Linked DNA regions of Homo sapiens: region 2 is linked to region 1. Evidence: fine-mapped expression QTL. Tissue or cell type: whole blood. Region 1 holds a variant in brackets; the other region holds the start of a gene. All regions are shown on one strand. Distances are between the middles of the regions. Region 1 overlaps TFPI (tissue factor pathway inhibitor). Region 2 holds the start of CALCRL (calcitonin receptor like receptor).

The links. PIP is the estimated chance that this variant, and not a neighbour inherited with it, causes the effect.
Region 2: CALCRL starts here. The variant in region 1 is fine-mapped to the expression of CALCRL in whole blood (TOPMed, PIP above 0.99).

The regions. Positions count from the first base shown.
Region 1 is chr2:187,468,300-187,473,701 of GRCh38, forward strand. The region is part of intron 6 of TFPI (tissue factor pathway inhibitor); the gene reads right to left. All of the region lies in intron 2 of CALCRL-AS1 (CALCRL and TFPI antisense RNA 1), which reads left to right. Among named protein-coding and RNA genes, the nearest start is that of CALCRL, 23 kb to the left of the region's middle. The variant T/C (reference allele first, on the strand shown) is at 2,220.
Region 2 is chr2:187,445,379-187,450,780 of GRCh38, forward strand. CALCRL (calcitonin receptor like receptor) reads right to left here and starts at 2,874. Exons shown (of 15, transcript NM_005795.6): 1 at 2,661-2,874. The region is part of intron 2 of CALCRL-AS1 (CALCRL and TFPI antisense RNA 1); the gene reads left to right.

The DNA of each region.
Region 1 (5,402 bases):
ATATATTAATTTACATATCATTTGTTCACAAATATTTGGCTTTAAAAAATTCTAATGAGCAAAGTTTTTATTTGTGATGTAACAAAAACACTGAAGCTGAGGAAGAGTTACTTCTCTTGACTAAGCACATGCTGACTGATGTAATACAAGCACAGTTTAAAGTGGAGGAATTCAGGTATGGCAAGTTTTAAGTTTCAAGGAATGAGTCCAGATGAGTTGTTTGTCTTGGTAGCATTTTTTTTCTCATATTTGAAGCTTAGTTCTAGATGAGTTAAATGTTTTTGCAAAGGAAGCAAATTGATTTGGATCAGACAGATAAGCTGGTTTGTCAATGGGATCAATCAATGGTTTTCAAAAACAGAAGAGAAAAATACAATTAGGGTAATAAAAGGAGCACTCATTTGCCAAATCAAAAGAGAAATTAGTTTCAGCTGAATGTTAGTTTTTAGCTCTCTGGGAATTACTGTCAGTGAGGGGCACCGAGTACTCTTCGGTAGCACAGCTAAACTGCTTGATGTTAATAAACCAGTACTACAGGTAAGTTGTATGGCAAGGAATCAATACAAGAAAACTTTAATGGCTTTGTCAAATGGTGAGATGTGATACAAGCAAATACAGAGGAGGAAGATTTGCTAAATGTCCAATATTAGCAGAAAATAGAACTTTGAGGAATCCAGTAGTTAATGAAGGTGAATAGATTGTGCTTTAAGCAAGAAGCAGTCTTTTGGCAAATAAACCCCAGATGAACAGACTGTAAAAGAAAAGAAATAAAACAAAGTGAGAAAAAAATGAAAAAAAATCTCAAATTGATATAAACATTTTTTACCACCTCCTGCCTTCTAGATATTTAAATAAGGACTAGAGTGTCTTGATATAGTAACTCAGGTAATAAAAAATATTCTGGGAAATATGAGAGGGAATGAATACTGTGAGAATAATTTATGAGAAGAAATTTGAGACAGGTGATATTTTTGTGCCAAACTATATCAATAAGATATCAGAACTATAATCAAATAAAGAGTATTTAGTTTTACTTAGGTCTTTGACTAGGTATATATGCAGTGATTTTAAGAAGACCTTCTAGGATTTGTAAAATGAAAACATCGTTTTAAATCATATGTAGCCCTTTATGTTTTACCTTCTCCTATGTGGGGATTATAGTGCGTGATTTTTAAAATAATTTTTATTGTGTATATGTGAGGTTTACAAAATGATGTTATGGGATACATATAGATAGTAAAATAGTTGCTGTAGTGAAGCAGATTAACATACCCATCTTCTCACAGTTACATTTTTGTGTGTGTGACAAGGGTAGCTAAAATCTACTTATATAACAGAAATCCCTAACACAATACTGTTTTACTAACTGTCATCTTCATGTTGTACATTAGATCTCTAGGCTTATTTATCCTACATGCCTGTATTTTGTATCCTTTGACATGATGATATGCCATCATAAATCAAAGTTGAATGGTGAGAATGTGTGCTAGACATTCTAGAAAATGTTGACATTTCCTGTCACTAAGAATCATTTATATTAGAGGAATTTTCTAGCAGTCTAGGAGAGTTATATTGTAATTGATTTGTACTATTGTACACACTTTTCCAATGTGTGGGATGTGTATTATCATCATCCTTGCACAGTGTAGAATATAAAATGATTATTAATTGCCACCACTTTGATCTCATGAGCTTCCAGTTATCACCTATGTTCAGAAACAAAAGAGATGCACTAGATGCAATTAACCTAATTTGAGAAACAGAGAAAACAGGAAATTACTATCGCTTTTTTTCCTGTTTAAACACCCACAGTAACTTCGAAATAGATGTGTATGATAAAATGATATATGACTTATACATCAATTTCACTTTAGCATTTTGTATGTAAGATATATCTGCCCACAGTAAGTTGCAGATAATATGTGTGAATGTGGTTGTAAGTTGTATCCTTCTTTGCAAATGTTAGTTGTTACGTCTAAATAGCAATGCCAGACATCAAGCCCCCTTATTCCAGAACAGAGAAAATTTTCTGATGACAGGGAGCAAACTTCTTCTCTTTTCCCACATACAACCTATAGTAAACATGGCCCAATCATAAAATCAAGGTTATTTCAAAATGGGAAAAAGCTAGGCTAGTACATATGGGGCTACAGTCCCTAGATTGGACGTATGAGAAGAGGAGCCTCTGTTATCATAGACCAAGAACAGCAGGTGAATCC[T/C]AGAACCATTTGGGCCTTTCCATTGAAGCTGAAACCATGGAAGATACACCACAGATGTGGTGGAGAGACATATGCTAGCTTCAGTCTTCCTTTGACTATCCAGTCATCCAACAAGGCCTGCCATTTACCAAATCCTTTCAGAAGCCAGAGGAGAAAGTTCCCCATAAAACCACATGAGCAGGGGATTGGTTTGAGAGCAAACAGACAGTTGACCAGCATAGATGCCAGCAGAGAAAACTTCACTAAATTATCCAAGGCATCAGATTGCCTCTACTGACACTCTTTATGACTTCTGAATCAGAGGGTGTCTGGCATGCTGCTTCTGACAGCCTGGGATTTGGTATGCAGATGCACCTATAATCAGATACTTGCTCCTACTTGTCCATGACTGATGCAATGTCAGTTGTTTATCTATCTTACTTTGCCCTGATTTCAACCACTGCTTACGCAGATCATTCAACACAACAGAGTTTTGACCCAGATCAACAGTGAGGTTCCTAACACTAGAAATGGCAATATTTCGATAGTGCATTAAAATGTGAAGTTAATCACTAAGGATATTGTATTATGTGTAATTAACTTTTAGAGGTTTTTAAAGATGCAATAAATTATTGTCAGTTAAGGAATCATTATAAGGCGGTTATTCTTCAGAACATAAATTTTACCTAATACGTAAACTAATTCATTTATCTTAAGATCATTTTAACTCTGAGCAGTAAGACTATCATTGGGTTACTATACCATAAATGACAGTAAAATTAAAGTAATGAAGCAAATGGTTTCTTAAGAACATTTTAGTTCCATTTGAATTTTTTTCACTTCTTGAAGAGAAAAACTTCATTGTTTCCAAATAGCAAATTTATTCTACATATAGATCAGCACTCATCTATTCAAAATCCAGAATTTGCTATCTACAATGAAAGAAAATATAAAGGTTTTGCGAAATGTAATTTTTTTAGTTGAGATTATAATTATTGACAGAAAGTTAAGATAGAATAAAAAGACACTAACCTGACTTTTGTTGTTTTTCCAAAGGGAATTTAATAATCAAATGCATTCTGTCTTGATTCTGCCATTAATAACCAGTTGTGTACCTTCTGTCTACAGGGTTTTTGATAGGTTTCAGAATTCAGGGTACACTTTTTTTTTTAAATCAGGAACTATCATGATCTAGTGTGACTGCTGAACTGTAAGATGGTGCTCTAAACTCAGTTTTACAGGTAAAGTTGTTAATGTAAATTTGCTTTGAGATTTGTACAGTAAACTTTGAATCATATATTCACTTTGAATCTTTACTGTGGTATCTTTTTTATGATTCCCATTTGGCTTGCCTACTTAGGCTTTTGTTTTACTAAACAAACTAGGTTTTAAGAAATATCTTACAACTTGTTAAGTACATTTATTTTATTCTTCTAAGACTTTTTAGGGAATTGAATAACAAATCTTTTTTAAAGTTTTTTTCTCTATAATTTTGTAGTAAAGAGAAATATAAATTATTTACTGCAAATTATCTTTGTAAAACTTTGAAATAATATAAAAGTATAACAAATGTAAAACAAAATTTATCCATAATTTGATTCTTGCCCTTTAACCACTACCAATGGTTTACATATCTCCAAATTGTTTGCATATTCAAATGTATTAATATAATATTCTATATTACTATACTTGATAATATTTTGTGGCTGTGTCTCCACATTTTTATATAGGCCTCACTCTTTTTAATGTAGGTACAGTATTTCATTTTATGAGTTGACTACAGTATATTTAGTCAAATGGACATATGGATTATTATAATTTATTTTTTTCAGTACCAGACAGTGGCTCATGAACACCCATGTACACTGGTTCAGGTGCTTCCAGAGGACATACTTCTAAAATTAGAATTATGCAAAATCTATATTCAATTTATAACTTGGTAGATGTTGCTGAATTTTCCACTGAAACTTTTCACAAATTTATATGCCTACAACGACATTTAAAGTGCCTAAACCATTTAGCAAACCATGGACCTTACTGCTATGAATTTATCTCCTATTCAACACTTTTTTCTTCCCCATGCCAACAAAAGTAGAAGAGTACTATGTGGGACAAGAAACTGCTTATAGCTTGCCAAATGTTATATGAAATATCATTTATATGAAATCCAAATGTCATTAATTTGAAGATGCACTATTATTTTATGTACTATTCATAAACAAAGAAAGACACGGCCAGGCGTGGTGGCTCACACCTGTAATCCCAGCACTTTGGGAGGCCGAGGTGAGTGGATCACCTGAGGTCCAGAGTTTGAGACCAGCCTGACCAACTAGGTGAAACCCTGTCTCTACTAAGAATACAAAAATTAGCTGGGCGTGGTGGCACACGCATGTGGTCCCAGCTACTAGGGAGGCTGAGGCAGGAGAATCACTTGAACTCCGGAGGTGGAGGTTGCAAGTGAGCTGAGATTGAGCCACTGCACTTCAGCCTGGGTAACAGAACAAGACTCCATCTCGAAAAAAAAAGAAAGAAAAACATAATTACACTGTTATACACTATCAGTTATAAGTTTCATCATCATTAGAATCATGTTAAAAGGTAGAAAAACCTGCATGTTAGAATCAAGAAAATATAATAATTTATATTTTGTACCAACACACAATACATACATATATATACAAGCACATATAAATGAGAATAGAATTTATATATGTATCCATTGGGCAAATATTTAAGAGGACATGCAATCAGTTGGGAGGATGATTACTATAGAGATAGCTTTATTAGGTAGGGAGCTTAGAGATTTGCTAGGTTAAATTTTACAAAAAGATACTTTTATGCTGAGCTTATTCTATATTGTTCGGGCTCCTCCAGCAGCTACTTCCAGTCTTGAACTTTATTTACTTTGTGGTAAGTTGAAAAAAAATACAAGAAAATAGTAAATGAGATATGCTAGAATGCCAACAGTGATTGTTTCTGCATAATGTGGATATGGCCAGTTTTTCTTCTTTTATTTTCTTTTTTATTCAAATTCTTTGCAATCATAATGCTCAAGATATATGATAGAAATAATATGTTAGAGTGAGTCCAGTGTCCTGAGGTAATAGATAAAAGCCTAGAGATTAGAGATTGGAATCTGTTTCTGAGTAGGAATGTGTGGTAAACTTGTCCCTCTCTCTGTAAAAAAGAAAGAGTATGTATCTC
Region 2 (5,402 bases), 23 kb before region 1:
CAGAATTATTTGATAAAGCTGTATTAAAAGTCATATATAGAGTATGAAATAAATTTTGTTTAGTGAATAAGTTTTTGATCCTTTAAAGATTATTATATTTTTTCTATAAAGATCTAGAACAATCTTTTAAAATTAAGTTACTATCAAACTTTTGCCATGTAGATAAAATTGGTAGCAAAATATTTTTACAATGTTTCCAAATATGATCTAGTTAGAAATATATAATGATGCTATTAACTGAAATTCAGTTAGTGTTTATGTGTTTATCAAATACTTTGTCCACATTAATCTGTAAAGCAAACAAGGTAATCATTTTACCTTTATATTATTTTCAATTTTTTATGAAATTTTATTTCTGTTATGCATGAAAAAATAGTATAATATGTGCAGGTGAACATAAATATTCTTACAAATATGCTAAGTATTGTCTTCATTTAAAATTCATTACATGTTCGGAGTCACCAGTGAGAAAACCATATGAATCTTGCCCATTCATTTAAAATAATTTTTAAAATTACAGACCCAGTATTATTTTAAACAATGTTTTTGTTATTCCAATTTTTCAAAGTGAATGAACAGTTTCATATATTATAAAAATCTACATATTTTAACTTTTAGTATAATGCTTTGGTATGTAAGATAGAAAAAAAATCTTGTAACAATAATCAAAAACATTATCTCTTTAAGAAATAGAATATTTCAGGTAAAACATATTTCAGCTCACATTATTCACATACTATTTCAATTCTATGTTTCATTTTACATATTTAGCATTGACTGTAGGCTCAATGCATTGATTTTATGATGCTACAAGGAAACATCTTCTAGCAAAGTAAATTCATTTCTTTATGGCTAAAAGCATGCATTGATATTCTGATATTTTCTTATCATTAAAGAAAGCACATTTTGAATACAATAATATGAATTTTTATTTCAAACTTCCAGTTATGTCCTCAAATATTTCCTTTGGCTAATGACCTTCAATGTTCATCGCCTAGTGTTTTTCAAAAGTATTTTTGGAAAACAAAGATTATAAACCATACTGTTAGTAAACTCATAAAAATTTAATCAAATTATACAAGAAAATTATGGGTTTGGGACTAGCAATTAAACAAAAATTAAGGAAGTTTGGAGAGTTTCTCATTATAAAATATGATCATAATATAATACCTCCTAAGAAAATAATCTGAATTAAAAATAATGTTGTTTTAATTTTTGTTACTAACCCACGTCATTGGGTTAGTAAATGTGTTGTTTCCACTTTCTCCCCCATTTATATAATGGCTAAAGTCACATTCTAAAAACACTTTTCCCATTTCTACACATGTGTCAGGGAACTCAGTACAACTGAAGATTGAAAAGAGAGAGAAATCAGCCATGATACTCTTAAAGAATCACAAATCTAAGAATTAATTTAAATTTTCATTATATTGAGGAATTTGTGGAAAAATTGAGTTGTAAATTACTGAGGAGTTACTCAGGATGTTTGTAGTCTATTATTAATGTGCCAGATATAAGTGATTAAGTACAGGATGCTTCCAATGCAGGACATCTTGGAAAGTATAATTGCATTTAGGTAAGAAAATATATAACTTAAAAATCATATCTATCAACATCATTTAAAATTTGACATCAAACTTTCTCCAGCAACAAATTTGTGATATATCTACACAAACAATTTATTAAGCAGACATTAGTTTCTTAAATTGTTCAGGACAGTCTGTACTATCGGAATGAGCATTAACAGATGTTTTATCCAACATTTCAGTAAGTTCCATCCTGGAAATTCTTTTTTAATAAATACTTTAATTTCTTTGTTTAATCGTCTAATATACTTCTTTGGGAAAGCTGTCACGTTTCTTTATCCACAGATATCGTGGTATCACACCCCCCTCCAAAAGCTTGCAGAGGGGAACCAGTCAAGTTGAAGTATTCTCTTAAAGATTTCAAAATTAAGAATTGTTTTAAAAATCTACATTTCCTAAACTCTAGGTTTTTTTTTTTCTTTGTAGCCGACACCATGATCCAAATAAAGAGCAAACAGTTCAGGGTTAGCAGAAGAGAGATTTAAACACATCTGGCAACAATGAACACAAAAATTAGTTCAGTAGTTACAGATATATGTGTAAATAAAGGTGAAAGGCAAATAAAAGCAAATGTAATAAATACAAAGTGATTACTTTTCAAAACTCTGCATTATGATCAACCACAGAGTAAGTGAGACTCCGAGACCCATTAAGTAGTTATTCTTTCACCTCTTTCTTACAGCTGATAACATGGAAAGTTTAAAGACCCTTCCGGGGGGAGAAATGTTTTCCAGTTGTCAAGATTCAAGCTTAGCTAATATTAGAGCTAATTTTAAAAGACATTGTTCTGTGATTAAGGTATTTGTTCAGAAATATGTCTTTTAATCCATTTAGATTTTTAATACTTGCTAAATTTATTTTCTAGAATACCATGGTAAACAATATTATCTAGTAGTATTAGATTTTGTATTCATGTTGGGGTAGTAGGCTGTATTTTCTCTAGCATGTGAAATAAGTGAGACTATGTTTCAACATTATTTCAGTGCTATCTACTAAATTCTATAATAGAAACATTGCCAAACTATATGAGAATACTACTTAGAATAAATATATTTATTTTGAATGTGCACTTACCCAGTCCAGCTCTTAAGGAAATTCTTTGTGAAATATTCTCAGGATGGAACTTTACTTTCTGAGATTCCGCAGAAGAGATTTACCCACAAGCAAGGTGGGAAAGAGTGAAAGCTTTGCAATGTGATCCTGCAATTAGGATGAGATTCAGTTAGCAGAGCTTGATGGTCCTAAAGCAGGAGGTGACACTCTCTGCTGGAGAGAGAGAGGTTGTTCTGAGTAGATTGTAAGTGTTGTCAGATTGTAAGTGATCAGCAGCAGAAGGGAAACATCAGAGCTTCCTGTTACATCACTCTGACCCCGCCTGCAGTTAGTGTTAGGTTACTTTCTTTCTCAAATAGCATACCCCAGGAAAGCAGCACTCCTTTCTTATTGTGAGACAAGAGCAAGAAGCAGCCTGAACAGAGAGAGATCATAGGCTGTGTGAATACATTGTTACCAGTAAAAAGCTGGCTGGCTTTCACCTTGACTGAGTTCTGTTAGAACTTGCCAAACAAGCTACTTGTGATTTGAAGGAAATCTGAATATAGTATTCTGCTCAAAGAATCAAAGGAGTTAGGCGTGTGTGTGTGTGTGTGTGTGTGTGTGTGTGTGTGTGTGTTGAATTATAGCTTACAAAGTATCCAGGAAAAAAAATCTAACAAATCTGTGTTCATAGCACAACACAGAAAAAAAAATTAACTGTATTCATCATAACTGGTTTTGTGATTTGGCTCTTCTTAATTTGGAGCTCTGCTAATTGGGTGCTGTTCCTCCATCAGTTCCTAAGTGCAGTTCCTAATCAGTTAATTAGATCAAGAAACTTTATCCTGCAGTTTTTAAATCTTTTATTTTTTCCTTTACCTTCTTCATAAGAACATGAGTGTATGTGTTATAAATTCAGGTTGTGTATGTGTGTGTATAGAGTGTTTCTTTTATAATATATAAGTATATATATTTGACAAAATAGCCTTTTGAATAATTCATAATTTTAAAATTATTGCACACATTTAAAAATATTTGGTATAATTATGTTATTTATAATATAAAATAATTTATACCACAATATTTGTAAGTCAATATAATCTTAAAGAAAATATAGATGTTGTAAACATAATATTATAAAATAATATAAATACAAAGGATACTTTATTTCTTAGACAAAATTTCATCTCAAAGCATAGTTTTTCCTGAATATGTTTAATACATCATTGGATATGATCAGGGGAAAATGTAAATTTAAAATGCTTTTATCATTTTTATAATTTGGTAAATGTTCGATATGAAGCAATAATTATAATCCCTATAACCTAAACAGCACTAAAAGTCACTTAATTTATCAGGGCATAAATTTTCTCATCTATAAACTAGAAGAGATAGATTTTATGTCTAAGGCTTTGAATCGACAAATTTCATAACATTTTGAAATAGATAAGATACGGTGAGGATCATTCAACTCTTAGTAAATTGTTAGTGCAATTCCAGGATAAAATGAGGTGCCATACACCTTGTAGGCAGACAAAGGAGGTAAAGGCAAAATAAATTCAGGAATATCATGTTTTTAAAGCAGGGTGCTCATGTTGACATTTTTATTGTCTGAATTAGTGGAAGAAAATGTTTATACAATCTTTGATTTTAAGACCAGTGAGATCAATATTGATTACAAAATACAGACATATAAAAAATAGATATACTTTCATCTCTATAATTATGGTTAATAGAAAAGACTTGTAAGAAACTGAGTTACACTGGTGAACCGGTTCTGATACTGTCTGGTGTGATCTTGACAAAGCTTTTTAGGCTTCATGTTCCCATCTTGAAATTCAGAGAAAAACAAATACTAGATTTAATATGAAAGTAATAATGGGTCATGTCTTCTCATCTTCCATGCTAAGTGTAATATATGAATCCTATAAAGAGATTAATATATAGTTTTTGAATTTAATTAAATCATGGAAAACTAAAACTTTTCCCAATATGTTTATAAAAGCATTGATATTTTCGTCTTTCCAAAGATTCATTTTTCTTTCTTTCCTTCCTTCCTTCCTTCCTTCTTTCTTTCTTGATGGAGTTTTTGCTCTTGTTGCACAGGCTGGAGTGCAATGACGCAATCTCAGCTCACTGCAACCTCCACCTCCCGGGTTCAAGCAATTCTCCTGCCTCAACCTCCCAAGTAGCTGGGATTACAGGCGCCCGCCACCACACCCAGCTAACATTTTGTATTTTTTTGTAGAGACAGGGTTTCACTATGTTGGCCAGACTGGTCTGAAACTCCTGACCTAAGGTGACCCGCCCACCTTGGTCTCCCAAAGTGCTGGGATTACAGACATGAGCCCCTGCGCCTGGTGAGATTCATTGATTTCATTTGCCCAATACTAGTAAGGTCTACTGAAGGAAAAAAATTCATGTTTTGAGCTCATGTCATAAGACCCTTAATCCAATGCTCTTTCTCTTCTACTCTCTATCAAGTGCTATACTTTATGGGGTGTCTAGTAGAAGTTGTATCATTTATATTTAAGTTGACGTACACATGGGCCCATGGCTGTAGTCCATGAAGACTCCTTGATAAATTTTATTAATATCATCTTTAATTCTTATTTAGACATAACAGGAAAATTGCATCCTAGTAATCCTCAAGAGCTGCCATTTTATAAACTTCAGAAAAAATAAATGGTACAAGGACTTCCAGGAAGGCATTCAGGGTATTCTAAGTTATGTAGGAGCAAGTGATAAGATAGATCATAAAAACTTCTCTAATACCTACTG